Regions from separate parts of the Homo sapiens genome. Here regions 2, 3, 4 and 5 are each linked to region 1. Evidence: fine-mapped expression QTL. A gene starts in region 1. Each other region holds a variant in brackets. All regions are shown on one strand. Distances are from middle to middle.

Region 1 (6,200 bases):
ATTATAGCAATGTGAGATCAGACTAATACACAATGTAACAATAGAGAAAAGGTAACTATAAAAATAATGTAAACAGTTGTAACTTGGCCACTGTAGAAATCATTAGTGCTATAATAATATATTGAAATACTTCCGATTATCTTCCTTCTAAGCACACAGTAGGATTCCATTTCCCCAGGCTTTTGGAGTTAGGTGTGGCCATGGAACTTGCTTTAGTCCATAAATATGAGTCAAAGTAACATATGTCACATCAGAATGGAATCCTTTAAGAACATAATGACTATTTTCCCTTCTCCCTTTATGTTGCCTAGAACCATTACAAATGGTGAAGGCCTCATTAGCCTGGTCTCTAACATGAACATAAGCATGACAAGAAACAAATCTCTGTTGTTTTAAGCCACAGAGATTTTGGATCTTCTGTAACTGCAACACAACTTCATCCATCCTGACTGTGACACTTTTAGAATTTGTCAACAAAATTTTATACTCCCCTCAAGACGGGCTAATTTCCCTCCCCTTGAATGTGAGCTGGCATTAATAACTAACTTCTAACAAGTGATGGTGTGTAGGCCACAATAAAAAGTGTTGGAGCTTCCTCTCTTGAGTCACTCACTCTGAGGAAAGCCAGCTGCCACGAGAATCATGAGGACAGTCAAGCAGCCCTATGGAGAGATTCACATGCTGAGGAATTGAGGCTTCCTGCCAACAATGAGCATTAACTTGTCAGGTCTGTGAATGAGCCACCTTGAAAGAGAATCCTGCCGCACCAGCCCCAGTCAAGCCTTCAGATGGCTGCAATGCCAGTCAACATCCTGACTGCAACCTCACAAGATACACTGAGCCAGTTAAGCTGCTCTTAGATTCCTGACCAACAAAAACTATTTGAGATAGTAAGTGCTTATTTTTTTTTAAGCTACTAGGCTTTAGGCTAATTTGATATACAGCAATCGATAACTAATACATTGGTTGATACAAAAATATATCAAATACTGAAAATAAAGGATAGGGAAAAATAAGAACTAATTTCTTTGCTTTGAACTTTGAATGATTTGGAAAACATTGTAATGGCACTAACTGTAAGTTACTCAATTATATTCTCAAGTCTTGAGGCAAAGGCCATGTCTGCTCAATAAACATTTGCTGGAGTCTAGTAAATGTTTAACAACTGAACAAGATGTTCAGAACTGACAAGAATATTTTAATATAGATAGGAGGGAACGTCCATCTCCTCTCTTTTGGACACTATGCTTTTTTTTTAACACTAGATCATACTGCAATACACTATACTTTTATTACTGCAGCAAAACCAATTTTTACAGCAGAAGTATCACGCTGCTAGTATACACTGGAAGTTTAGATTTGCTAAGTGTTTTAAGATAGAAATAAGTCCACAGGTTATTTCCTCACTATATTTTCTCCTATTCATCTCAGCATTCATATGACAGATGTGCCATTCTATGTTAAATTTTTCTGATGACTACCAGTTTCAACACTAAACCACAAAAGGAAAAAAGATATAGTGCAGGGAAAAGCATTGTTGAAGAATAAATATTCTATAATGAACTGTTCACTCCATGTATCAAAAGCAGAACTGAAATGTTACCTAGCCATCATTTGATCAGTTCTAACAGGTTCACCTTGCATTCTATCTTTAAAATCCTTAGGCTGGGCGCAGTGGCTTGCACCTGCAATCCTAGCACTTTGGGAGGCCGAGGAAAGAGGATTACTTGAGCCCAGGAGCACAGGAGATCAGCCTGAGGGCAATATAGTGAGGGCTTGTCTTTCAAAAAAAAAAAACCTTAAAAAAAAAGTAGCCAAGTGGTGGCACACGCCTAGCAGGAGGCTCGCTTGAGCCTAGGAGGTGGAGGTTGCACTGAGCCAAGATCATGCCACTGCACTCCAGGCTAGGCAACAGAGCAAGAATGTTTCTAAATAAATAAATACATAAAATAAAATCCTTAAGCCAATCTTCATTTACCAACCAATTTTTAATTCTTTTATTTGTTACCACATTGTCTCTCCTGAATATCCAAAGGCTCAAAGCCTTGGTTTGAATGCAGCTAAATTCATTGGGTTTGATCTCAAGTCAAACTTAGAAATACTGTCATCTCAGCCACAAATTTCACACTAAAGTAGATAGAAACCACTACTAAATCACTACTTTGTCTTAAAATGAAAGTATAATAGACTGTAAGGTTATAATTGCTTTTTTAAGTTAAACTTTGTTTTACATTTACAGAAAATTTGCAAAAATGGAGTCCCCACACCCCCTTCATCCAATTTCCCCTACCATTAATATCTTACAATACCATGGTATATCTGTCACAATAAAGAAATCGGTATTGGCACTATTACCTAAATTCCACACTTTGTTCAGATTCGCTAGTTTTCCATTAATGTCCTTTTTCTGCTGGAGATCCCAGCCAGGATACCACATTACATTTAATCATTATGCATCATTTTCTCTGGCATAATAGTTTCTCAGACTTTTCTTGTTTTTGAGTAGTGATTAGGTAATTTGTAAAATGCTAACCAGCGATCTCAGCTCACCATAACTTCCGCCTCTCGGGCTCAAGAGATTCTCCCACCTCAACCTCCCGAGTAGCCGGGACTACAGGCGTTCACCACCACACCAGGCTAATTTTTGTATTTTTAGTAGAAACGGGGTTTCGCCATGTTAGCCAGGCTGGTCTCCAACTCCTAACCTCAAGTGATCCGCCCGCCTCGGCCTCCCAAAGTGCTGGGATCACAGACGTGAGCCACCGCGTTCGGCCCCTTTTTCTAATATTGTCTAAAATAAGTATCCTAAACAGGAAATACCAAAAAAATCCCCCTCGCTTTCGTGACCTACACCGGTAAGCGTCAGGATCTTTCGCTATGCGAGAACCTTTTGGCTCTCGTATGTGCGCATGCGTCTGGATCCGGAGCCAGGTGACCCGCTCAGACGTGGACCATGTGCGGGGGAGGGGGGAAAGGAGCCGCGAAGGGGGTGGTAGACGGAACAGGTGGAGCCGCGGCGGGGCTAGGCGGGGCGGGGAGTGAAACAGCATAGGCTCCGCCCCTCGCGGCGCTTCCCCCGGAATAGCGTCATCAGTTCTATAAGAGAGCGTGTGCCGAAGGCCTCGGCCTTTCACATTCGGGAAGCGTCGGGATTAGGTGAAAGTACGTAGTTGTCTTTCGTAAGTTAAAATGATAATTGGGCCGAAACTTACTGCCTTACCTAAAAGGCAGCGCAGTCAGGATATTGGTAGGTCGGGGGCGGCTTTGGAAACCCTTAAGTTTACAAGCATGCGCGGACTTGAGTGCTCATTAGGTCGCCGGGCGTCCACGTGCAGCCCTGGACCCTGAACCCCGGCGTGCGTGGGCCGTGGGCCCTCGGGGAAAGGTTCCGTGCACTCGGGGACTCCGGTGAAGCCTGTTCAGCCGTCTGTGTCATGTGGCCATCTTGAGTCTACTCTGTCGCTCTTGTGCCCTAGCACCCCGAGAACCGTCAGTTTGAGCCAGATGGTGAGTAATAACCTGTAGCAGTTTGGTTGCTGGTTAATTCTGGATTGTGAATCTCCATGTATCTTTGGGACCTGTCAGCCGTGGCAGTCTCCCTTCCTAGCCATGGAAGAGCATATCCTTGTTTATTGGCAAAGCTGTCACCATTTAATTGGTATCAGATTCTGACTTGCACAAGTAACATTCACTGTTAAAAACCTAGAGGGTGCCGGGTTATTGGGCAAAATTTCTAAACCGTTGTTCAATGTTTCTAGGAAGCTGAGCTGAACACATTACGATGGATGATGGAAACATAAGGTACATTTCTTTTTTGATATTTCTGAGTTAATCTGAAACGCCTTAGCGGCAGGACGTTGGAAAGCTAAAGTTGGCCCGTTTTGCTGGCTTTTGTAGTTTGAGTTAACAACCAACTGAATTAGCTGATAAGATCTCAAAACAGTGAGGTAAGTACACAGCTCGGAGTTTTATAATGCTTTTTTTCTCTTGCAGACTATCAAGAAATCCAAGTGGTAATGGGCGAAGTTTATTCAGCATCCGGCAATGGACTTATCGTAGTTGGGGAAACGGGTGTTCCGAATAATATCCTGGAAGTTATCAGGACACCTATTTTAAATATAGGCCTGAATTTTGTAAAGTAATATTTAAGGTGGTCCGTGATAATTAAATAAAATGCTTAATTCATGTGGCTACTCATTGTTCCTTGACTGAGTGATTAATAGACGGAAAGGTAGTTAATAGCATAATACCTCCTATTTAGTGTTACACGCTCATGTGGAAGTAGTGTGAGTACAGTTCTAAGGTAATTGCAGCCTTTGTGAAAAATGTAAAATATAAAAATTACCAGGCTACCCCCAAGGGAGACAGCAGACTCTTTTTAAACCATACAAAAATTTAAGGCAGTTATACAAGGTGGAAAATTATGTATTTATTTACACAAATATGCACAGAACACTTGTATCTTTCAAAAGTCACACTTAAGACATAGTAAAAGCATGTTGTATGAACCATGTATTCTTAAGGATTGAGCAAACTGCAGGCTGCTTGCTGCCTTTTAGGTTTGCTAGTCCCTGATCTACTTGAAACAGATGTTGCTTGCCCCAACACTAGTTTAATTATAAGGGCAGCCTGTGAGAAAGTTTCAATAGACATTTTTCTCACCTATATTGCACGTTTTTCTGAAGCCCTTGTGCAAGTGTGTGTGCCATGTGTAGTTCTATTTACATATAAACGCTACTTTAAAAGTTTATCAAAATCATGAGTTTTTACAAAAGTTTTTAATGCTCTTCTGCATTATATGCAGCATTGCAAATCTGCAAAGTAGTAAAACTATAAAGCACCTTTAGGTTTGCACCAGTTATTACAGAAATGGGGATTTGTGAAAAGGATGTAATTTGATGTAGAAGGGCAAAGTCCTTTAATGACTGGCATTCAAGAGGATTACTTAAAACAATTTGTAAGTTCATGCTAACCTCTTCCCTATATTTATACTACTGGGACCTGGGGAAGGATCCATGACATGGAAGTATCTTGAGTGTGCCTTTTAAATTTGAGCATTACTGCTAAGAATGTTCTGTAAAGGTGCATAGTTAAGCAGCTATCCCTTAACTCTTGGAGAAATAGCCATAGGGAAACCAATCATTTAGGTAGGAGAACCATGGGGAAAAAAATCAGCATTTTTTCTGGAGTTTGGAATCAGTTTCACCAACTGGTCTCACTTTGAGGCAAGCCTGTTTTCCCCCATTTGAAAACAAGGGCTACTACCATAAGATTTACTGGCCTTTTGCAAATTGTCAGTGATGTGCAAAGCTGCCTAATGCAGTGCCTGGCATATGTTATAACTGCTGTATGTATTAGAACTTTTCAATGTGTAGGCCAGGAAAGCATTTTGACTAGTATATTTTAAGATTGGATTGTATCAGGTTGGGCTTGGGAAAACCTGCAGGTATAAGTCAGTTACAGGGAAGTGTCAGTGGGTGGCACTCTTACATCATGGTCGGGGAACGTGGACTATGATGAGGTGCTTGTTAAAAGCAAATATAGTAGATATGTTAATGTGTTGGATAAAATAGGTTGTATGTCCAGCTGGCATTTAGTTACCAGAAATCCTTTCAAATTTTGCTAGTTTATACGCTGTAGGTAGAAAGTATTTTTATCTTATGGTTTCTGTAGCACTTGGTACTCAACAAGGATACTTGTTTCCAAATATCAGATCACTTTGAGAATATATTGTGACAGGCAGATGTCCTTGAGGCTTTACTACTCCTATTCAGGCCTAAAAGTTTATAGTGGAATTCTTTAACCACTGATTTCCTCACTTGACAAAGGCTACAGAGAATATGAAGATTTCTTGTCAAGTCTTTTGAAAAGACCTAAGCATAAATATGCCACTCATGAGTGTAGTAAAGGGTACCGCATTTATGTCAAATGTGGGTATTTAATATGATTTCAGACACCACTGATTCAATTAAAAGGGGTTCTCAGTTCAAATGTAAAAATGATCTTTTGTAAAATCAGCATAGAATGATTTTGAGAAATAGGTAGGGGATAGATGAGGCTTAGAATAAGTCACTCCAGTGAAATTAGGGTAGAAAATGTTCATTTAAGGATTATCACTTCCACTACACTGAGGCCTCTGAAAATGTTCACAAATTTCTCAAAAGCAGCAGGGGGTACACAATTTTTTACCACAACACAAA
Region 2 (5,000 bases), 67 kb before region 1:
TTTAAATCACAAAATAAATATATTTGTTTGGTATTTTGATAACCCTCTCCCCCCAGAGTGAATTCAGCCTTATGAGCAAATATAGTTAATTGAAACCTCTTAGTAGTGAAGCTGATCTTTGTGATTACCTAAATTTAATTCATTCACATATGAGCCAAAATCAAATTTTCATGTAGGTCAATTTTCTGGAAAGTTTTTGAAGTTAAACACATTTAGAGATGTTTAATTTAATGCTCTTCCTATATCTATTATATTGTGGAGGGAGTGATTTAAAACAAAGAAGCAAAATGCTTCCTGCTGGAAAATAAAGATGTTTTCATTGCAAAATTAATATAACCTTTGTGCTATGCTGCTGCTTAAAAAAGGATGTCTATTAATTAATCATTTTTAAATCTATCATAAGAAGTAACTGTATTCATTATTCTGTCACTTTCTAACACTAAAGGAAGAAGAACAGCTGTTGTCTGGCCTCTAACTAACTGCAATGGGGTCTTTCAGAATAATACAGAAAGAACATTAGAACAGCATGAGCAAGATACACAATTCAAAATTAATCGAAAATTGGTGATCTGAGAACTGGAGATGTTCTCATGACATGTAAATATTTGTTCAGCAGCTAAAGTAATAGCAATGCATTAAACCAATAGAATTACTTTTGACACCTAACAGAAATGTTAATTGATCATCAATCTTTAGCTCGTAATAAAAGGGCTGAACTTGCAGTTCTGAAAGTATAGCCAGAAAAATTATGTGAGAGACATAAATGTTATAAAAAAGACAAACTGCTCCAAGCTAAATTGCTTTAAATTACATTGACCTCATCACTGTACCTTTGAAACCTGTCTCTAATTGAGAGCAATTGATTTACCCTTCCAACTTTCCTTTAAAGCCTATCAGATCCCAAATTCTAAATGTTAAGAACCCTTTGCCAAAGTATTCTGCAATTGAGCTTTCCTTTGAGATTCTTAAGTGATGACTAAGGCACGAGCCAGGTAGAAAAACAGTACTCAGTGAATTTAAACCTTAGAAATTAAGGTGACATCTTTTGTCTCCCCCTGGAGAAGGTGATAAAGTGAAAGAAATTTTTAGCATAAGACCATTGTAATTACACAAAAACATGAAAGATAATAGACACCAAAATGAGCTGTGAGAGGGACAAACATGCCAAAATTTCTAACACCTACCCACACCCAGAATAAAAATGTCAAGTTCCTGGAAATTAAGGAGGATTTGTGGGGAGGATTTTTGGAAAGAGTTGTGCTGTGTGTTGAGCATGATCCCACCACCCTCTATCCACGGGAGAACAGAGGGGTCATTGCCTGCTCTGCTGCTCAGCTGAGCTCTGGCTTGAGGGTCACTGAGACCATCAGAGAGCTTAAGAGGTGTTTCCTGCAGGAGGGGGACACAGTAGGTTGTTGTCTGCCTTACAACTAATAAATCCAAAGTATGAGAGAGAGATTGGCTAAAGTGGTATCAGAAGAAGAAATAACCACATATAAGAATTATGTGCCCTTTTTTCCAAAGACAGATCAAAGGCTCCCAAATCCCAGGGCCCAAATGTGCAACTCTTAAAAGGAATATTAGCCTAGGATCCTTTTAAAAGGGACCCTGCTGGGCCGGGCACGGTGTTTCACACCTGTAATCTCAGCACTTTGGGAGGCCAAGGCAGGTGGATCACGAGGTCAAGAGATTGAGACCATCCTGGCCAACATGGTGAAACCCCGTCTCTACTAAAAATACAAAAATTAGCTGGGTGTGGTGGCACGCTCCTGTAGTCCCAGCTACTCAGAAGGCTGAGGTAGGAGAATCACTTGAACCCGGGAGGCAGAGGTTGCAGTGAGCCTAGATTGCACCACTGCACTCCAGCCTGGTGACAAAGTGAGACTCCATCTCAAAAAAAAAAAAAAAAAAAGCGGGGGGACCCTGCTCAAGAGGGTTCCTGATAAAAGACTAGGGGAGTCACTGGCTACCAAAGGAAGTTGTACTGATGGGGCCCAGAAGTGATGACTCCAAAGATCTCAGATGATTTTAAACATATGCATATGACAGTATCAGTTGAGTAATAATTCCCTGCATCCTTTTCACTCCTTCATCTCCATGTCCCAGATACTAAGGGATCAGAAACCTCAGTAAGCAAGTAGAGTAAAATCACCCACTGGAGAACAGAGCATTGATCAGACTTTCTTCCCAGCCTCTCTTGCAAATTCTCTCCTGCACCAGGTCTCAGGAGGATGAGAGGAGCAGATTTAATATTGCAACAAGTTTGGAATTTTTATTGTTCTTTGAACCAAAAGATTTAAACTACTAAATCAAGACTTAAAGCTACATGGCAACTTTCTGTCACCTAAGAG[A/G]TTAGGGAGGCCATTCTGCAAGGGAAAACTACCCATACTGAACAAATTTTAAAGGGACAGTGGGAAAAAGAAGTAAGATTGCTTTAGTAATAATATCCCATGAATCCTAATTATTTAACATATGAGCTACATAATTATTTTTAAGATTATTTCATTCATTTTATATTCAGATTTTTATACCATGAATATACATAGAAATATAAAATTTCTAAGAATGAAATAAAAAGATTTTTAAATGTCTTGCTAATCACAGTAGCCTCACATTATGATTAACAGATGTAAATCCATATTTCAAATACTCTTCTTCAAACTTTTGAAATTTGGGAGCCTACTATTGTTAAATGTGATTATATCATCACTGTTTTCATCGCATTAGGGGCTGACAAGGGTTCAGACTAGAAGGAGCACAGGGGTTGGCTCTGGCACTTTCCTTTCCTTCACTTGTGCTTTCATTATTATTAACAGCATTCACTATGAACCATGGTTTCTTATAATCTTTTTAAGGCGCTTGGACTTTTTGTGATGGTTAGCCTAATTAAAGCTAGAAAGTACAGTCCGTAAATCTGTGTAACTAGGCTCTCATAAACTGCCATGTACTATAATACACTGCAAGTAAAGTGAACGATGTGCCTGTGTCAAGGAGTCCCCTTGAGGAACTCCTTCTCTTCCCTCAGGCTTGCCCACATCCCAGAAGAGGGCTTAGTGAGAAACTTCAGAAGGCAACGACTCAAAGCCCCTCACTTTTATGGACCCCTTCCACAGCTTGTTTGGGACCACTGTTTCTTTCCATTCCACTTTCCCTTGTATCAAACATCCCCTTAGGACAGGTAGGGTTGGAATAGCAGCGGGCATCTTTTTGGATCTAATTAGAAGAGGGATACAGTTAGTTGGGTTCACAATGCAAATAAAGCATTTGGAATTTGTATGATGACCTGATGAAAAAACATGCCACAATGTGCATTTTATTAATTGTTTTTTATAAATAAAGCAGATAGAGGCAGCTACAGTCTGGATTAAAAGTAGAGAAAGGCCAGGCCTCATGCCTGTAATCCCATCACTTAGTGGGGGCAAGGTGGGCAGAGAGCTTGAGCAGCCCAGAAGTTTGAGACCAGCCTGAGCAACATGGCGAAACCCCATTTCTACAAAAAAATACAATAATTAGCCAGGCATGGCTGTATGCACCTGTGGTCCCAGCTACTGGTGAGGCTAAGATGGATTGGTAAATTGAGCCCAGGAGGCTGAGGCTGCAGTGAGCTGTGATGGAGACGTTGCACTCCAGCCTGGGTGGCAAAGCAAGGCCTTGTTTTTCATTCATTCTTTTATAAATAAATAAGAAATTATTATATCCAATATAATGTTTGATAATATCATACAACATAGCATCAAGAGTATGCTATGACCATTTGCAGCAGAACAATCCTACACCTTTAAAGTCTACCTGATTTGGACATTTTTTAAAAAAGGATGAAGGGTTTTCTGAATGGCTGACTTATTTTTTCTATACATGAGGAAAGAACCAAATGAGCTCCAAAGTATAAGTATACTCACATGCCTTCCTCAGAATAGATCAAATAATTATAACAGGTTAGCCTTGGGTGCAAGAATTTCAAGACAAGTCAAAATATCATATTTTACCCAATCTCAGGTAACATGTATTTCTTGGGTACTTAACTATGTTGTCAGACACTATATTGAACTTTTAGCATGTATTATCTCATTGAATCCTCACATGTAATTCATCTGGAGCTGTTAAAGCTAACATTTGCTCCCCTATAGTCTGATGAAAGACTATTTTTCTACCTTCCTTATTAGTCTCTTCACATTTGGTTTCTTTTTCATCTGCAGTTCATTATTGATTGCAAGCTAAATCGTCAAAGCTAACACAATTTCCAAATAATGCTTCCCAGCCAGCAAGAATCATGCAAAATGAAAAGCAGTGATTTGACATGAAGAGGACAATTTTTCTCACAGCTCGAACATAAATTGTCACCATTCATGAACTCCAGTAGACTGCTCTTCCTTTATGATTTGTTCTTATTCATGCCCCAGGTGAACAGGAATAAAGCCCAGGGCACTGAGCCAGTGTGCTGAACCCAAGACAGGTGGCACAATAAGATACTAGCCTTTAAAATATGCATTCGGTTGGAACCTGCAATTTCATCCACTTCTAAAAATTTTTCCCAGGAATATAGTCAGATACCAACTAAGATGTATCAATGATGATGACCAATCCAGTGTTGTTTACAACAATAAAAATTATGAGCAAACTAAAGGACCAAGAGTAGAAAACTGACTAAGGACATTGTGATAATTAATAAGATAAATTACTATTTAGCCATTAAATATATATATATATACACATTTTAAAGTATTTTTAACAATGTATAAAATGCTAAAGATATATTGCTAAGCAGCAAACACTATGCATCAAGTTATACCATACATTAACATACACATACAAAATTTTATATAAAAATAATTTATACATAATTTATAATATATACTTTTTTATATAAATCCTATATATAAGATTTTTAAATATGAAAACAATTCAGAATTTTTTTCTTTTTTGACATTTTCTGTTTTTTACCTTGACTGTATAATTTTTAAAAGCAAAAAGATCACTTATGATATAGACTTCAATTCAAC
Region 3 (5,000 bases), 28 kb before region 1:
AGGCGGGTGGATCACCTGAGGTCAGGAGTTCGAGACCAGCCTAACCAATATGGTGGAACCCCATCTCTACTAAAAATACAAAAATTAGCCAGGCGTGGTGGCGCACACCTGTAACCCCAGCAACTCGGGAGGCTGAGGCAGGAGAATTGCTTGAATCCAGCAGGTTGAGGTTGCAGTGAGCCAAGATCACACCACTTCACTCCAGCCTGGGCGAAAGAGCAAAACTCCATCTCAAAAAAAAGAAAAAAAAAAGTCACTGTTTAGAGGTTGAATCATTGGAGAATCTTGGTGCCCCTGCCCACAAGTCTTTTACAGTTATTTCTAAATATCCCAGATGATATTCCACACAAGCTTTAGAACCATTCTTACCCATTCTTGTTTTACTCTTTAAATCAACAAAATGTTATTGAATAATTATGTGCATGACTCTGGAGACACAATGATGAACAAAGTATCCCCACCTCCAGGTTAGGGTAGCCCTAGAAGCGGACACTAAACAATATATGAACACTTCCTCCAAAATGTTCACTGCCTGAAGGCCTTGAAAGGAGGGCCCCAGCCATGACAATGGTTGCCAGTGCTTACATAAAAAGATAGTTTCCTTGCTGTTCCACCAGACTTCAGAGAAACACTGCTGCTTTCTGAATAGATGTGGGGAGATTTTCTCCATCTTCTATTACACTTCTTCATTTGGGCTCTGAAATAGTATTACTTGTGTCCCAAACTCATAAGACCTTCAATGAACAGCAGTCCCTTCATCTATGATGGTTCTCCATGAAGGACCAGACCCAGTCCCTCAGGCCATTGGGTAAATAAACATGCTTTCCCTTCTAGCTTCTCCTTCTCATTTTCATCCTGACACACTTATACCATTGCCTATGAGGGTATGCACACAGATGCCTAGGCTAGGTGCCAGCTACACACACAGTTTTTCTCAGTGAAGCCCAGCATGACACCTGCTGCATAAGATCTAATTAATTAGCCGACATAAAAGAAAAACCTATTTTTCTTTTGATTCTTAATTTTAGCATGTGTGGAGTTCAGTGCTTCTTAGAAAAACTTTCTCTCAGAAGACTACTCATTTTAATACACAGCATATGTATGTTCCAGTTACGTTATCTACAGCAAGGTATATTAGCAAAAAGTAATAGCTGCTCTGGATTCTGAATTTTGATCACTTGAATACTTAAAATGAGTCAGAATTCAATTTTGGAAAATTGCTGATAGCAAAATGTTAATGAAAAATATTACATCAATCACAGACTTCCAGAAATGTTGTATTAAAGTTTCCCAAAGGCTTTCATGTACAGATTATTTAAATAATACAGTCTTTATTAATGATCTCTTTGTAATTCTGAATATAGCACTAATTTATTCAGTTGCCTTACCGATTCAAACAAGACCATAAACAGCATGAAAACATAAAATGTTGTGTCCTGATCTGACACAATTGCTTTAATAATGATGAGAAACAGGCTTTACGTAAATGGAAAGTGATTATTCTCTCTAATACACAAAGTCATACAGAGGCAGAAATCTAGGTTTGTATTCTTTTCATAGGGCTAGAGTTATAAATTCTACAAGATTAACTACATATAGACTACAGCCCCACATACACACACACACACACACACACACACACACATTAGATCACACTATCATTTTAAGTGCTTTGTTAATGTATAATTTACATATAATCACCCATTGTAATTGTGCAGTTCAATGAATACAAATATATACAGTTGTACGTACCACCAGAATCAAGATATAGAACAAAAAGGTATAATCCAAAAAATTTAATCATGCTCCGCTGTAGTCAACACTTTCTACTCACCTTGACCCCTAGGAATCATCAAGCTACTTTCTTTCACTTAGCATAATGATTCTGAGTTTCCTCTATGTTGCTACATCTATCAGGAGTCAATTCTTTTTTATTGTTATATATTACTCCATTTTATGGATGTACCACAATTTGTTTATCCTTTCACCAGTTGATGGACATGAGTAATTTGTATTTTTTGGCTATCACGAACAAAGCTACTGTGAACAGTTGTGTGGACATACATTTGCATTGCATTCGAGTAAAAACCTAGAAATGGGGTTGGTGGGTCATATAGTAGTTATGTATTTTAATTTCTAAGAAACTTTACAAAGAGGCTGTAATATTTTTAATTTCTACCAACAATTCTATTTGTTCCATGTCTTTGCCAACATGGGATATTTTTAAAATCAGTCATTCTACTGAGTGTACAGTGCTATTTCATTTGTAATTTTAATTTGTATTTCCTTAATGATGAATGATGTTCAGCAAATTTTCATTTGTTCATTGACCATTCATATGTGTTCTTTGGTGAAGTGTCTGTTCCAATCTTTTTTTTTTTTTTGAGATGGAGTTTTGCTCTTGTTGCCCAGGCTGGAGTGCAATGGCACAAACTCGGCTCACCGCAACCTCTGCCCCCCAGGTTCAAGTGATTCTCCTGCCTCAGCCTCCTGAGTAGCTGGGATTACAGGCATGCAGCACCATGCCCGGCTAATTTTGTATCTTTAGTAGAGACAGGGTTTCTCCATGTTGGTCAGGCTGGTCTTGAACTCCCGACCTCAGCTGATCCGCCCACCTCAGCCTCCCAAAGTGCTGAGATTATAGGCGTCAGCCATTGCACCCAGCCTGTTCCAATCTTTTATGCAGTTTTTATTGATATTTTTATCTTTTATAGTGAGTTATATATTCCAAATACAAGTTCTATATTAGATATATTTTTTACAAATGTTTTCTCCCAGTCTGTGGTTTCCCTTTTCATTTTCTTGTGTCTTTATGAGAGCAAAATTTTAAATTTTGATAAATTCAAAATTATCATTATTTTTCCCTTATGGTTCATCCTAAGAAATCTTTGCCTAACCCAAGGTTGCAAAATTTTCTGGTTTTTTTCCCTATGTTTTCTTTCAGAATTTTTATAATTTTAGCTATAAATTTTTTATTTATTTATTTATTTATTTATTTATTATTTTTATTTT[A/AT]TTTTTTTTTTTTTTGAGACGGAGTCTTGCTCTGTCACCCAGGCTGGAGTGCAGTGGCACAATCTCGGCTCACTGCAAGCTCCGCCTCCCGGGTTCACGCCATTCTCCTGCCTCAGCCTCCCAAGTAGCTGGGACTACAGGCGCCTGCCACCACGCCCGGCTAATTTTTTGTATTTTTAGTAGAGATGGGGTTTCACTGTGTTAGCCAGGATGGTCTTGATCTCCTGACCTCGTGATCCGCCTGCCTCGGCCTTATAATTTTAGCTATAAATTTTTAAGTTTTCAGCTTAAATTTTTATAGTTTAGGTTTAGCTCAATAATACATTTCAAGTTAATTTTTACATACAACATGAGGTAAGGGTCAATGTTCAGCTTTTTCATATAGATATCCAATTTTTCTTGTGAAATTTAAAGGACTAATCCTTTCCCACTGACTTACCTTGGCAGCCATTTTTTGAAAATCAGTTGACTGTAGATGTGTAGATTTATTTCTGAACTCTTCATTTTGTTCCATTGATCCATTGGTCCACTGATGCCAACACCATACAATCTTCATTACTGTAGAATTAGAGTAAATCTTGAAATTAAATAGTATGAGATCTCCAAATTTGCTCTTTGTTTTCAAATTGTTTTAGCTTGTCTACTTCCTTTACATTTTTATATGTACTTTAGAATAATTTTCTGTTTCTACTTAAAATATAGTCCACTGGAGTTTTGATAGGAATCATACTGAATCTATAGACAAATTTGGAGAGACTTGGTATTTTAAAAGTATCTAGTCTTCTGATTTATGAGCATGGTATAGCTCCCTTTTTTTCTAAAACTTAACAAAGTTTTGTAGTTTTAAGTGTGCAGCCATTGCACATATTTTTTGTAAACTGTCACCCTAGATATTTCAGGTTTTCACATTATAATTTTAAGCAAAGTGTTGGAAGTAGCATTCCTAGAAGTAGAACAGATTAAAGGCAAAAGAAAAACGTTATCTGAAATAATTCTAATTGAGAAGAAAAATGGCAATATAATTATTGAATAACAAAAGCTATGTAAAGGAATTATCATTGCTATTACATTCACTTTTATATCTGAGCATACAAATTAGTGCTTTATTTACAGTGAATAATAATATAAAACCTACTTGGAGACCAGTAAAAAAGAAAAGGCCCTAAACCGAAAATCAGCAGGCCTAGACTTGAGTCATGACTTGAATATTGAAGAAGTGTATAGTACAAGGTAAATAAACCTTGACAAACATTTTCTCCCTTCTCATTTTGTGTTCAACTAATACTTGGCAAATGTTTACAAGAGCCAAACAGTATGCTAAATGCTATAAAATGGGAAGAATCCTTCACAGCATATCCTTAAGTGTCAGAATGAAACCTCAAATGAGAAAGAGTTATATGAAATATTTTGGTAAGATAAAATGTGTATTTTAATGTGCTATTATTATTTATTATAATTATGGCATAAAAAGTTCATTTAGGCTGGGCACAGTGGCTCACGCCTGTAATCCCAGCACTTTGGGAGGCTGAGACAGGCGGATCACCTGAGGTCAGGAGTTTGAGACCAGCCTGACCAACATGGAGAAACTCCGTCTCTACTAAAAATACAAAAATTAGCTGCGCATGATGGCACATGCCTGTAATTCTAGCTACTCGGGAAGCTGAGGGAGGAGAATCACTTGAACCCGAGAGGTGGAGGTTGCGGCGAGCCGAGATTGCGCCATTGCACTCCAGCCTGGGCAACAAGACCAAGACTCCTTCTCAAAAAAGAGAAAGAAAAAAGAAAAAAATTCATTTGTAGGTGCTATTACTTTAATACAGAGCTCATACCAAAAGAAGAAAGTAGCTCTGAAAAAAATTAAATGGATTATAGCTAGAGAATCCTAAAAGTAATCACTCCATGATACACTGAAACCTTTTCTCTTCTATTACCTTCTAGTTGTATGATACAAGTAGCATCTAAATCCATAGACATGGAAGAAGGCTGAC
Region 4 (6,200 bases), 40 kb after region 1:
TAACATAATAAGACTTTTAACAATATAATCTGGCATTTAACTGCCTTTATAATTAATGAACCTTACTTAAATCCCAATTGTCGACAAACCACGTATGTATTCAGCTCAGTCCAGCCATCATCACAGACAGTTCCCCACTGGCCTCTGTAATATACCTCCAAGCGACCCTCATGGCTGCCTTTCCCACCTGCAAGTCTGATGACCCCATCTGTGATAAAGAGGAGACACAGAGACTAAGCAAATCAACTTTCAAAAAAAGGCAAAACAACATTTGTATTTCACAAGAAATATCACCATATTCAGGCCTCACTCTAGGCCTTTTGCTAAACTTACATTACATCTGTGCTAAATGACCCTCTGAGGTTATCATGTTGTTTCTGAAGTTTGACGTAACACATTTCTGTCCTAATAAAATATTCTTTCCAGCTGGGTGTGGTGGCTCACTCCTGTAATCCCAGCATTTCGGGAGGCTGAGGCAGGTGGATCACCTGAGGTCAGGAGTTCGAGATCAGCCTGGCCAACATGGTGAAACCCTGTCTCTACTAAAAATACAAAAATTAGCTGAGCATGGTGGCGCATGCCTGTAATCCCAGCTACTTGGGAGGCTGAGGCGGGAAAATCGCTTCAGCCCAGGAGGCAGAGGTTACAGTGAGCTGAAATCGCACCACTGCCCTCCAGTCTGGGCAACAAAGCGAGACTCCGTCTCACGGAAAAAAAAAAAAATATATATATATATATATATCTTTCCTTTTTATTGGTACCCCTATTCTCTATGTAGAAAAATATATCCTGATATAATTCCAAAGTATCTATTTAGACTTCTCTAGATTAAACAACATTTGGGAAATTTCATATAACTTTAGTCTCAAGTCAGAGCAATACATGTCATTTAAATTTAAAAAGAAAATACAGTAACTTGGAAATAGCTCAGAATTTTAACTGCAAATGAAAAAAATACTGAAATAGGATGACAGAAAAAAACTATTCTGGATAAAAGACAGTCTGTCATGTCAATGCATATATTATTTGTTAGGCATTCATGAATTATAAAAACTGGAAGATATGTCTCGCCTTTGTTCTTTTATTGATAATACAGATCTGAATTTGAATCTTATTAACTCAAATAATAATTAATTTGCCTATAATTCTATAAAGAGCTTCTAAGCAGATAAACAGTATAATAAATTTAATTCCAAAAAAAGTAGATTTAAAAGCCATTTCCAACCAAAATAATCCAAAAACTCTCAATGAAACATATAAATAATCTTGGGTAAGGGTCATACTTTTCATAAATCTCAGGGATCTTTTAAAGTAAAGGTCTCTGAGCAACAAACCTTTTATTAATATAATATTTTACTGTCTGCAAAGCATTATGACATGCATTATCTCATCTGAGCATCACAGCAATGTTACAAGACTATCCTCATTTGAAGGAGGGGAAAATGGCAGTTCAAGAAAATGAAGTGCTCTGGCTAAAAATCTGGCGTAAATACATTTCTATGGTGTATTAATGTGTTAATCTGCTAATAAAAACAACTGCATGTATAGAAGTATGTGAAGAGAATGATATAAATCTGGTATTTCATAGATTCTAACAAGTTATTGATTTTCACTAAAGAAATATGTAAACAAAACATTTTTTTCTTCAAGTTCTTTTTACTAAATGGTTTCTGATGAGTCAGTTTCTCTTGCCTTTTCCATTTCCTTCTTCTTCTCCCTAAACATGTAAGTACATACACGCACACCAGTTTGTACTCACATATGCCCTTCTTACAACACATGACACATTTTGACAGGCATGCTGTCATTTGGAATAGTCTGAAAATTGTGCATAGCAAAGTTAACTTGGTTTCTTTCACAGTGTGCTTTAATCAACAATTGCATCAATACCAGCTCTAAACACATTCTGAGTCAAGAAACGTTAATAGATGAATGGACTAAAGATGGAATTATTACACCTAATATCTGGAATGTATCACTGCACACTGATTTTGACTATTGGGTACTATATACTGCAACAAAGTCCTATTTTCTGATCTAGCTTTACAAGACTATATAGCCTTAAATTGAAAAATTCAGGAATAACTATGAATAAAAAGATGGTACTTTAATATACGGTTTGCATTCTTTTTGTTTGTTTTATTTGGTGTATTTATTTGTATGCTCATTTGGTAATGTTGAAATTAAGGAGAAGGGAAGCTGTGGCAGGCCGACATGGTACTGGGGGCAAGAACTGGTACACTAATGGAGTGAAATCCTTACCTGTTAGAGGGGTACAGGACACTCCAGCATCTTCTTTATGGCCACAGTTATGCTCTCCCCAGGAGCTCTTTGGACACTGCTCAATTGAAAGCTCATTCCCAGTGCAGCGTACTTCATCCAACATAACTGGGCCAGACCCTTCCCCAAAATATGCCTGATGCCATGCTTTGGCAATGCCACTGAACAAATAAAAGAATGTAAGGATTCTGGATTAGATACCAAAGATTGGTCTTTTATTTTTTTTTTGTCCCTAGT[A/G]AAAGCATTATTATTAATCCCCACTTATTAATTCACTTCACAGGTCATGCATGACTTTCTGTATTTCTTTTTTGTATATTTGTTTGTTGTCCTTTATATTTTCAGCCATTACCCATGTTTCAAAGTTAGGTACTGCCCAATATTTAACCTCCTTTTCTTCATTAGTAATGGAACTTCAGATTTTTAGGAGGACAATGGCTATCCAAAATTAAAATCACATTTTGGCCTCCCCTCCTTCTTGATGACTAAGTTTGTTTGTTTGTGGTAAAATAAACATAACATAAAGTTTACCATTTAAAACATTTTTGGTTTATAGTGCATTAAGCACCTTCACATTATTGTACAATATCACTACCATCCATCTCCAGAACTTTTTCATCATCCCCAAATAAAATTGTGCTCCTATTTTAGACGCCTAAGTTTTGTTTTTCTTTTTGTTATGTTTGAGTCATAGTCTCACTCTGTCACCCAGGCTGGAGTGGTGTGGCATGACCATAGCTTACTGCAACCTTTAACTCCTAGGCTTGAGCAATCCTCTCACCACAGACTTTTGAGTTGCTAGGAATACAGGTATATGCCACCACACCTGGCTAATTTTCTTTTTATTTTTTATTTTGAAGTGGTGGGGTTTCAGTATGTTACCCAGGCTGGTCTTGAAATCCTGGCCTCAAGCAATCTTCCTGCTTCAGCCTCCAAAAGTGCTGGGATTCCAGGTGTGAACCACCGCACCCTGCCATAAGTTCTGACCAGTGATATTTAGGTGGAAGTACCATGTATTACTTGTAGGAAGTATCTTCCTTCTCCTGACTGCAAGGATGGCTGGAGCCTAATAAGTTATCTTGGGCCATAGGGTCCCATACTAAGGATGACAGAAATGCAAACAAGAGAGATTCGGGGCCTTAATAATTGCGGAACCACCAAACTACTCTTGAGCTGGCTACCTCTAGTCTCTTTTCCTAAACATAAAATACACTCGACTCTAAACTTGTTTAAACTGCTGTTATTTTCAGTTCTTTGTTACTCACAGCCAAATCTACTTCTTTTTTAATGTTGTTGTTATTTTGAGACAGGGTCTCACTCTGTTGCCCAGGCTGGAGTGCAGCAGCGTGATCATGGCTTAAGGCAGTCTTGACCTCCTGGGCTCCAGTGATCCTCCCACCTCAGCCTCCTCAGTATCTGGGACTATAAGTGCATACCACCGTGCCAGTGAATGTTTTATTTTTTGTAGAGATGGAGTCTCATTATGTTGCCCAGCCTGGTCTTGAACTCCTGCACTCAAGCAATCTTCCCACCTCAACCTCCCAAAAGTGCTGGGATTACAAGTACGAGCCACCATGCCTGACAGCCAAGTCTATTTCTAACAAAAACATCTCTTTACTGAAGTTTATTTGTAGTTAATTTACTTCTCCCACAATTCAAAGCAATAGCATATTCTTAGAACCCCAGATTTAAGTGAAGATCACAAACCTGTCAAAGTGATTAATAATTTCAGATATTGCATTTTCAGTCCCTTTTAGGCTTTTAATTTTTAGACTATAGCATTTATATTTTTAGTTTGTTTTTCAATGATACTGCATCTACTCCCCCATTATTTTAGCTGCTCTTTTCTTATAACATTATAACTTGAGAATTTACAACAAAAATATATTGAAGAAAAAAAAGTGTGCTAAATGGCTGTAATACCCCACTAATGGTAAAGTCTTAGATACCAATTTTGCGGCTAAAAAGGAGCCTGATTCACTATTTCTACTAGATAACATGGAAGTTTCTTTTAAAAGAACATGCCTAAGAAAACAAAAATATCTAAAAGTTAACACCTATTTTAATATCATTAGAGGGCCAGACACAGTGGCTCACGCCTGTAATCCCAGCACTTTGGGAAGCCAAGGTGGGTGGACTACTTGAGCTCAGGAGTTTGAGATCAACCTGGGCAACAGGGCAAAACCCCATCTGTACAAAAACATACAAAAATTAGCCAGGTGTGGTGGCACACACCTGTGGTCCCAGCTACTCGGGAGGCCAAGGTGGGAGGATTGCTGGAACCCAGGAAGTCAAGGCTGCAATGACCCGTGATCATGCCACTGCACTCCAGCCTGGGTGACACAGAGAAATCCTGTCTCAAAATAATAATAATAATAACAACAATATCATTAAAGCAAATGCTTAGGGAATGCTCCGTCATCACCTGACTCACTTTGAGTTTAAAATTCAAAGAGTGTGCCAAACTCAAAATTTGAGTTTAAAATTCAAGAGGAAGGATAAAAGAATATTATAGGAGGTATAGAGGAAGCTGAGGAAAAGAAGATGGCTTAAGCAAAATATTTTCATGGAGTTAACATTTTAAAATTTAGAATCCTGGCACTATCTGATACTTGTAACACAGTGGACTCTGAGCAATCTGCCCCAACAAAAATTAAAGACTAATATCTAGAACTAATAGGACAAATGTGAGGAAAACATTTGGAATTCTAACACATATAATATTGGAGTCCTAACACAAAGGAATCCTAACACAAATGATATTGTCAAAATGACAATTTTGTGAGTGAATTTGTTTGTTTTGCTAAGGGAAATGTAATGACAAAACAGAAAGTCATGTCTACTCTGGAAAGAGTCAATAAATGCTTAATTAATAGGATTGTTCTAAATAAAGTTTTCAGCTGTTTCAAAGTATGTCTATATGCCTAGAGAAGAGTGCACTAATCATGTATAAATATTTGTATATTACTGACCATGTCAAAAAGCTTATTTTTTCCAAGCTCAATCTTTGAAGTGGAGAAGTATATGTGGACACAGACTCTCAGCTTCCAATCTGGGCTGTACCTTCAACAAGCTGGGCTACCTTGGGGAAGTTACTAAAACCTTCCAGGCTTAGGATGCAAAGCTGAACACAGGGATGATAACGGCTAACTTGCAGGGTTGTAGGAATTAAACTGATGCAAAGTAGGAGCTCAATAAATGCTGGTTCCCTTCCCTCTTCTGGCACGTTAAGGAATCCCCACGTACCCCTGACAGTTGATAAATAACATATTTTTCACTGCTAAGCCATTTATCTAAAGACCATTTGGTATTTAGTTTAAACAAACACCAAGGTTGTTACTTTCCTTCATCCCCAAAAAGTAAAGTTGGGGGAATGGTAAGGAAGGGAGAATCAATCAATATCTTAACATTTTCTGGTTTTAATGTTGTTTCATTTATTTATTTATTTTAAAGTAAATTTCAAAGAAATATTTATGGAAGTAATTTATGGCCTATAGGAGACTGAACAAATGCATGTATGTGTTATTTTTTATTATAGATTATAAGGTAACGGCCCAGAAGACTATTAAGTAAGCTCTGACCTGCATCACTAAACTTCAGATTTTCCTGTGGTAGAGATATATCTAATGAGAGGCAAACATTTTCAAATATTTGAATGCACATAAAGTATTTTATTTAAAAAGGCTGTTGTGCCAAAATAAAACGTTTTGTGCAATGAAAGCACTGATGTTCCTAGAAAAATATGTTTTAAATCAAAATGATCTTGCAATAGTAGTGTACAAGGCTATGAAAAAAATTCAACTGTTTTAAAGATTACTTATAGTAGAAAAAATATCCTCTCCCAGAGAAAACATGTTCATAAAACACTTACTATAGGCTGGGCGCCGTGGCTCACAGCTGTAATCCCCACACTTTGGGAGGCC
Region 5 (5,000 bases), 170 kb before region 1:
TAAAATCATTCTAGTAATGAAGGGTTTAGTGAAAAGGATATGACCTAAGAATATTGCTGGGTACTTAAGCTTTTTACAAGGGTTAGGCCAGTAACAAATATATTTTTAAAAGGTGGGAATAATGGATGAATGTATAATAATGTTCTCATAAACATCTGCAAAATCTGGTTTACAAAAACAACATAAAAGATGACAAATATCACTGTTTATCTTAAGTATATAAAATATCATCTAGAAATAATTTTCCCCTCTTTACCATATATAGGCATAATTAGTATCTGCCATCTGTTTCAATGTATCTTTTATGTGTTTAGTGTTTATTTCTAGAATATCAAATAAATAGGTAAAATGGAAATTCAAATCTGCAAATTCAGGGCTAATTTAGTAACTTAAATCATTGTATTCTAGTTGACTAAGAGGTTAGTTCGCAGGAACTTTATTTAGCTTCTAAGGCCTAAGAAGAAGACAGGTTTCTTATATATAGTTTTTCTTATCAAGTTTTGTAAATGTACATTAAAAATGCAATCAAGGATCACAAAGCAAAGTTCGAATTCCAATTAAGTTTGAACAAAAAGAAAGGCAAAAAGAAGGTTCATTTTACCAAATTGTAAGACTTAAAGCACTGAACACAAAAAAAATATGTTCAAATAGATTTCGAATCTATATTTTAACCACTGAAAGAAGAAAAATAAGAGACTGAAATGAAGTGAGTAAAATGGAAAAAGAAGAAAGATATGATCTAAGTGGAAGGAAAGATAGGAAGGGTGGGCTAGAATGTTCAACTGGGGAACAACAGAATTGAGAGAGGAAGAAGGGGAGAAGAAAGAAAGGGAAGATATTATAATTGTCAGCATTATATATATATATTTATACACAAAATGTGTGTGTATTATAATTGTCAGCAGTACAAATATACAGACACTTGTATATGTATACTATATATCTTACACCTAGGTATATCCTTCCCCACACCAGGGTCCAGCATCTGACCTAGAAGTCCCATTTGTAACTTCATCATGTCCAGCTGGCTGGATTCCTCCTCCCCCATCCAAACCGTGCCCCACCTTGTAAGGACCTAACCTGTCCCTGATGACATTGCTGTCAGTTCATTCTTTTGCTCCCATAGTTAGGTGTAGAGATCCACCAACAGGCCTGTCTTCTATTTCTGAGTGTCATCAGGACGCACATATTACATGGTTCAGCTGTGCACACCAAAAAGCTTGCTTATGTTAAGAGAGTAGTGATACCAAAAGAATTAGATAGCTAAATTTCAAAAACTTACCATTGGCTAGATGAGTCTAAATTTGAACCCAGAAGTTCTCTACCTCTGCTTTTAAAATCAGGAAGAATCTCTTGCATTCAGATAAAGCATACAATCATGGGGTAGTCAATGAATAAAAAACTCTATCTGCTTATGATCCAAAAAAGTTGGGACCATAAACATGATGAGGCAGACCTTCCAGATGTCAGCTTTATAATTAAGAAAATAAGATTTAGTTGTGGGCCCAACTGTATTAAGGAAAGGGAGAAAGAAGATAAGGTGTGATAGAGTAGAAGGAATGCCTAATTTGGATCTATATCCGTAAGCTAGGATACCACTAATTTCATCTATGAAAGATCATTTACAAATCTAACAGCATTACTTTCTGCCTAGTTGAAGTGAACACTCAACTACCGTGTGTGTGTATGTGTATGTGAGAGAGAGACAGAGACAGAGAAGGAGACAGAGAGAGGGAGTATAAGAATCAGACTTAAAGATTGAGAAAGAAAAAAGAAGAAAGAAAAGTACATTAAATACTCAGCATGGTAAATATTTTATAGGATATAACAATTAAAACTCTGATTCAAAATAGCTTTACTTATCAGAAGTAGGATATTTTATTAGTCTGTTTTTTAATGAAAGGGCAAATTAGAGATCTACTTTACTATGATATCTCATTTTGAACAACAATCATTATCTTTTGGGAATCTCAGATTTTGATTTTGAAAACCAAAGACTTGTCTGAGAAA[T/C]AATCTGTTTCTTTCAACATACGTTCTTGCATAGCTTCACTAAAAATGAGTGCCCTTCTTTTGGCAATTGGTGATCTATATGCCTGAAGGGTAAATTGGATATATTTTATGTACTAGATCGTAGTTCTTTTGATACCTACAGAATAAACTCTTTTCATTTAACTTCCTTTTTCCAACTGACACTTTTTGCTGATTTATTGCAAGCTAAAGGATAAATAAATGTATGTGTTTCATGTAAACTCAAAAGTATCTCTCTAGTTTTAAAGTGATAAAGAAACTATTTTCCACCATTTAATTCTCACATGTATAAGGAACTGGTTTTATCCTCTGAATGCAAAAAGGATATATCTTTTGGAAACTTTTTAATGCCATTCTTTACCTGATACATTTTTTAAATTATGTATTTCAGGCCCTGCTTGATACTCAGAATCTTTTGCGTGCACAAATCACAAATTTTACATTCAACCTGGGATTTTCAGGGAAATTTTACCATACAGGTAAGAAAAAGGGATTAACTGTTCTCATTAAGGCTTCTCTGATCACTCTATTTAAAATTGCACACTTTTCCTGCCCACACTGTCCTACATTCCCTATGTTCCTCCCCAGCATTTTATCATTCAATTCTATTTAACATGCTATTTTTTAATTTTTGTAAAATATTAATGGTTTGAAAGTTTATGGAACTATCTGATGGCCTTTCATTTTTATTGAATTATAATTTACATATATAGAAGTACATAAATAGTAAATGTGATATTCAGTGAATTTTCAACGTGTACACAGCTGTGTAAAGAACAGGCAGATCAAGAAAGAGAACACTTCCAAAATCTCCACTTCTTGTGCCCCTCACAATAACTAACTTCTCTCAAAGAAGAGTAGTATTCTGACTTCTAATATCATGAATTAGTTTTGCTTGGCTTTGAGTGGTATGTAAAAGGAATCATACAGTAAAGATTCATCTGTATCCAGCTCATTTTGTACAATGTTATTTTTGTTTCAGAAATATTACTGTCTATAGGTTATAATTCTTTCCTTTTCCTTGCTGTACAGTATTCCATTGTCTGAACATACAAAATTTACTTGTCTATTCCATTAAGCTGTAGATGGTTGGGTGTTTCCAGACTTTGAGTTTTTCTGAATAGAAATGTTCATAACTTCCTGTTACGAACATTTTTATACCTGTCCTTCAGAGGACTTGAGTATTCTTTTCTGTTAATCATCAACTAGGAATGGAATTGCTAGTTATGTGGCACACTTATAATTAATTTTAGTAGAAAATGTCAGTTTTTCAAAATGGTTGTACCTGTTTATATTCCCAACAGTATGAGTGTTCCTGTTGCTCTGTATGCTTGCCAGTATTTGATATTGTTTGTCTTTTTAATTTTAGCTTTTCTGGTGAACATGTAGAGATATCATATTAGGGTTTTAATGTACATTTCTCTGAAGAGCAGTAAATGATCTTTGTTCGTATGTTGGCTGGCTATTTGGATATCCTCTCTTGAGGAGTATCTGGGTTTTCTGCTTTTACTTAATGATTTGTAGAAATTCTTTCCTTGAAGTTTACAGTTCCATGTGTTCCAAGTACTTTCTCCTGCTGTCTGGCTGTCTCTTAATTTTCCTTATGGCGTTTTTAATGAACAAAAATACTTAATTTTAGGCCGTTCAATTTATCATTTTTTTCTTTAATGGTCATTCTTTTCTATCTTATTTAAGAAATCTTTGCATACTACAAGAACATGAATTTTTTTTCTTTTTGAGACAGGATCTTGCTCTGTTGCCCAGGATAGAGTGCAGTGGTGCAAACACAACTCACTGCAGCCTCAACCTCCTAGGCTTAAGAAATCCTCCCACCTCAGCCTTTTGAGTAGCTGGGACTACAGGCCCATGCCACCATGACTGGCAAATTTTTCTTGTAGAGAAGGGGTCTCACTATGTTGCCTAGGCTGGCAATGTATAAATCTGTGATACATCTGGAATTGATTTTTGTGCATATATCAGATAGGGGTCTTTTTTTCATAAAAATATCTAATTGGTTAGCCAGACATGGTGACATGTGCCTGTAGTCCCAGCTACTCAGGAGACTTAGATGGGAGGATAACTTGAGCTCAGGAGGTCTAGGCTGCAGTAAACTATGTTCATGCCACTGCGCTCCAGTCTAAGCAACAGAGCAAGAATCTGTCTCTTAAAAAAAAATCTAATTGGCTGGGTGTGGTGGCTCATGCCTGTAATCCCAGCACTTTGGGAGGCCGAGGCGGGTGGATCGCGAGGTCAGGAGATCGAGATCATCCTGGCTAACACAGTGAAAACCTGTCTCTACTAAAAATACAAAACATTAGCCAGGCATCGTGGCAGGCCCCTGTAGTCCCAGCTACTAGGGAGGCTGAGGCAGGAGAATGGCGTGAACCCAGCAGGCGGAGCTTGCAGTGAGCCGAGATTGCGCCACTGCACTCCAGCCTGGGCTACAGAGCGAGACTCCATCTCAAAATAATAATAATAATAATAATCATCATCATCATCATCTAATTAGCACCCAGTATTGAAAAGACCATCCTTTCCCACTGCTTCATAGTGTCATTATTATCATAAATTATATGGCCATGTAACTGTGGACTCTCATTCTGAATTTCCCTATTAAATGTGAAAAGAAATCACTCTAAATATTGAGAATAATTAAAAAGTTTTTTCACAATCATAATTAAAATGAGTAAAGATATTTTGACTTGCCTCAGGATAGATGAACACAATTTCATGATTGAAAGCATTACTCTGTATTTTTAGAAGTTAAAAAAACTGATTACATGTATTGGTATACTCATATAATGGAATACTCTGCAGTCATTAAAAAGAGATAATTTTAAATATAAACCATATAGAAAAAGCTCTCAAGATACACTGAAAAATCAGTGTACAGTACAGTGATTAGAACATGCTCCCATTTGTATAAAAATAAAGAAGATAAAAGCTATACAAAAGTCAAGGTATAGTACAGT

Direction of the effects. Positions count from the first base shown, and alleles are read on the strand shown. Sizes are in standard deviations (SD) of each study's normalised expression. Not every link is listed here.
For the expression in prefrontal cortex of the gene that starts at base 3,132 in region 1, allele C in region 5 goes with a lower level than allele T (small effect, 0.33 SD a copy in GTEx).

What was found. PIP is the estimated chance that this variant, and not a neighbour inherited with it, causes the effect.
Region 2: its variant is the best candidate, but not a certain one, in a credible set for the expression of SNHG8 in esophagus mucosa (GTEx, PIP 0.75).
Region 3: its variant is the best candidate, but not a certain one, in a credible set for the expression of SNHG8 in lymphoblastoid cells (GENCORD, PIP 0.57).
Region 4: its variant is the best candidate, but not a certain one, in a credible set for the expression of SNHG8 in whole blood (INTERVAL, PIP 0.54).
Region 5: its variant is the best candidate, but not a certain one, in a credible set for the expression of SNHG8 in prefrontal cortex (GTEx, PIP 0.56).

The regions. Positions count from the first base shown.
Region 1 is chr4:118,275,631-118,281,830 of GRCh38, forward strand. SNHG8 (small nucleolar RNA host gene 8) reads left to right here and starts at 3,132. Exons shown (of 3, transcript NR_034011.1): 1 at 3,132-3,162; 2 at 3,759-3,801; 3 at 3,994-4,193. PRSS12 (serine protease 12) reads right to left here. Exons shown (of 13, transcript NM_003619.4): 13 at 4,408-6,200. SNORA24 (small nucleolar RNA, H/ACA box 24) reads left to right here and starts at 3,560; the gene lies at 3,560-3,690. RefSeq lists an enhancer at 2,660-2,839 and a silencer at 2,910-2,959.
Region 2 is chr4:118,208,882-118,213,881 of GRCh38, forward strand. All of the region lies in intron 6 of NDST3 (N-deacetylase and N-sulfotransferase 3), which reads left to right. Among named protein-coding and RNA genes, the nearest start is that of SNHG8, 67 kb to the right of the region's middle. The variant A/G (reference allele first, on the strand shown) is at 2,352.
Region 3 is chr4:118,248,118-118,253,117 of GRCh38, forward strand. The region is part of intron 12 of NDST3 (N-deacetylase and N-sulfotransferase 3); the gene reads left to right. LOC105377392 (a long non-coding RNA gene) reads right to left here. Exons shown (of 3, transcript XR_939113.3): 3 at 3,330-3,570. Among named protein-coding and RNA genes, the nearest start is that of SNHG8, 28 kb to the right of the region's middle. The variant A/AT (reference allele first, on the strand shown) is at 3,013.
Region 4 is chr4:118,316,116-118,322,315 of GRCh38, forward strand. It overlaps PRSS12 (serine protease 12), which reads right to left. Exons shown (of 13, transcript NM_003619.4): 5 at 2,263-2,441; 6 at 67-208. Among named protein-coding and RNA genes, the nearest start is that of PRSS12, 34 kb to the right of the region's middle. The variant A/G (reference allele first, on the strand shown) is at 2,518.
Region 5 is chr4:118,102,599-118,107,598 of GRCh38, forward strand. It overlaps NDST3 (N-deacetylase and N-sulfotransferase 3), which reads left to right. Exons shown (of 14, transcript NM_004784.3): 3 at 2,420-2,507. The region is part of intron 2 of LOC107986307 (a long non-coding RNA gene); the gene reads right to left. Among named protein-coding and RNA genes, the nearest start is that of NDST3, 71 kb to the left of the region's middle. The variant T/C (reference allele first, on the strand shown) is at 2,011.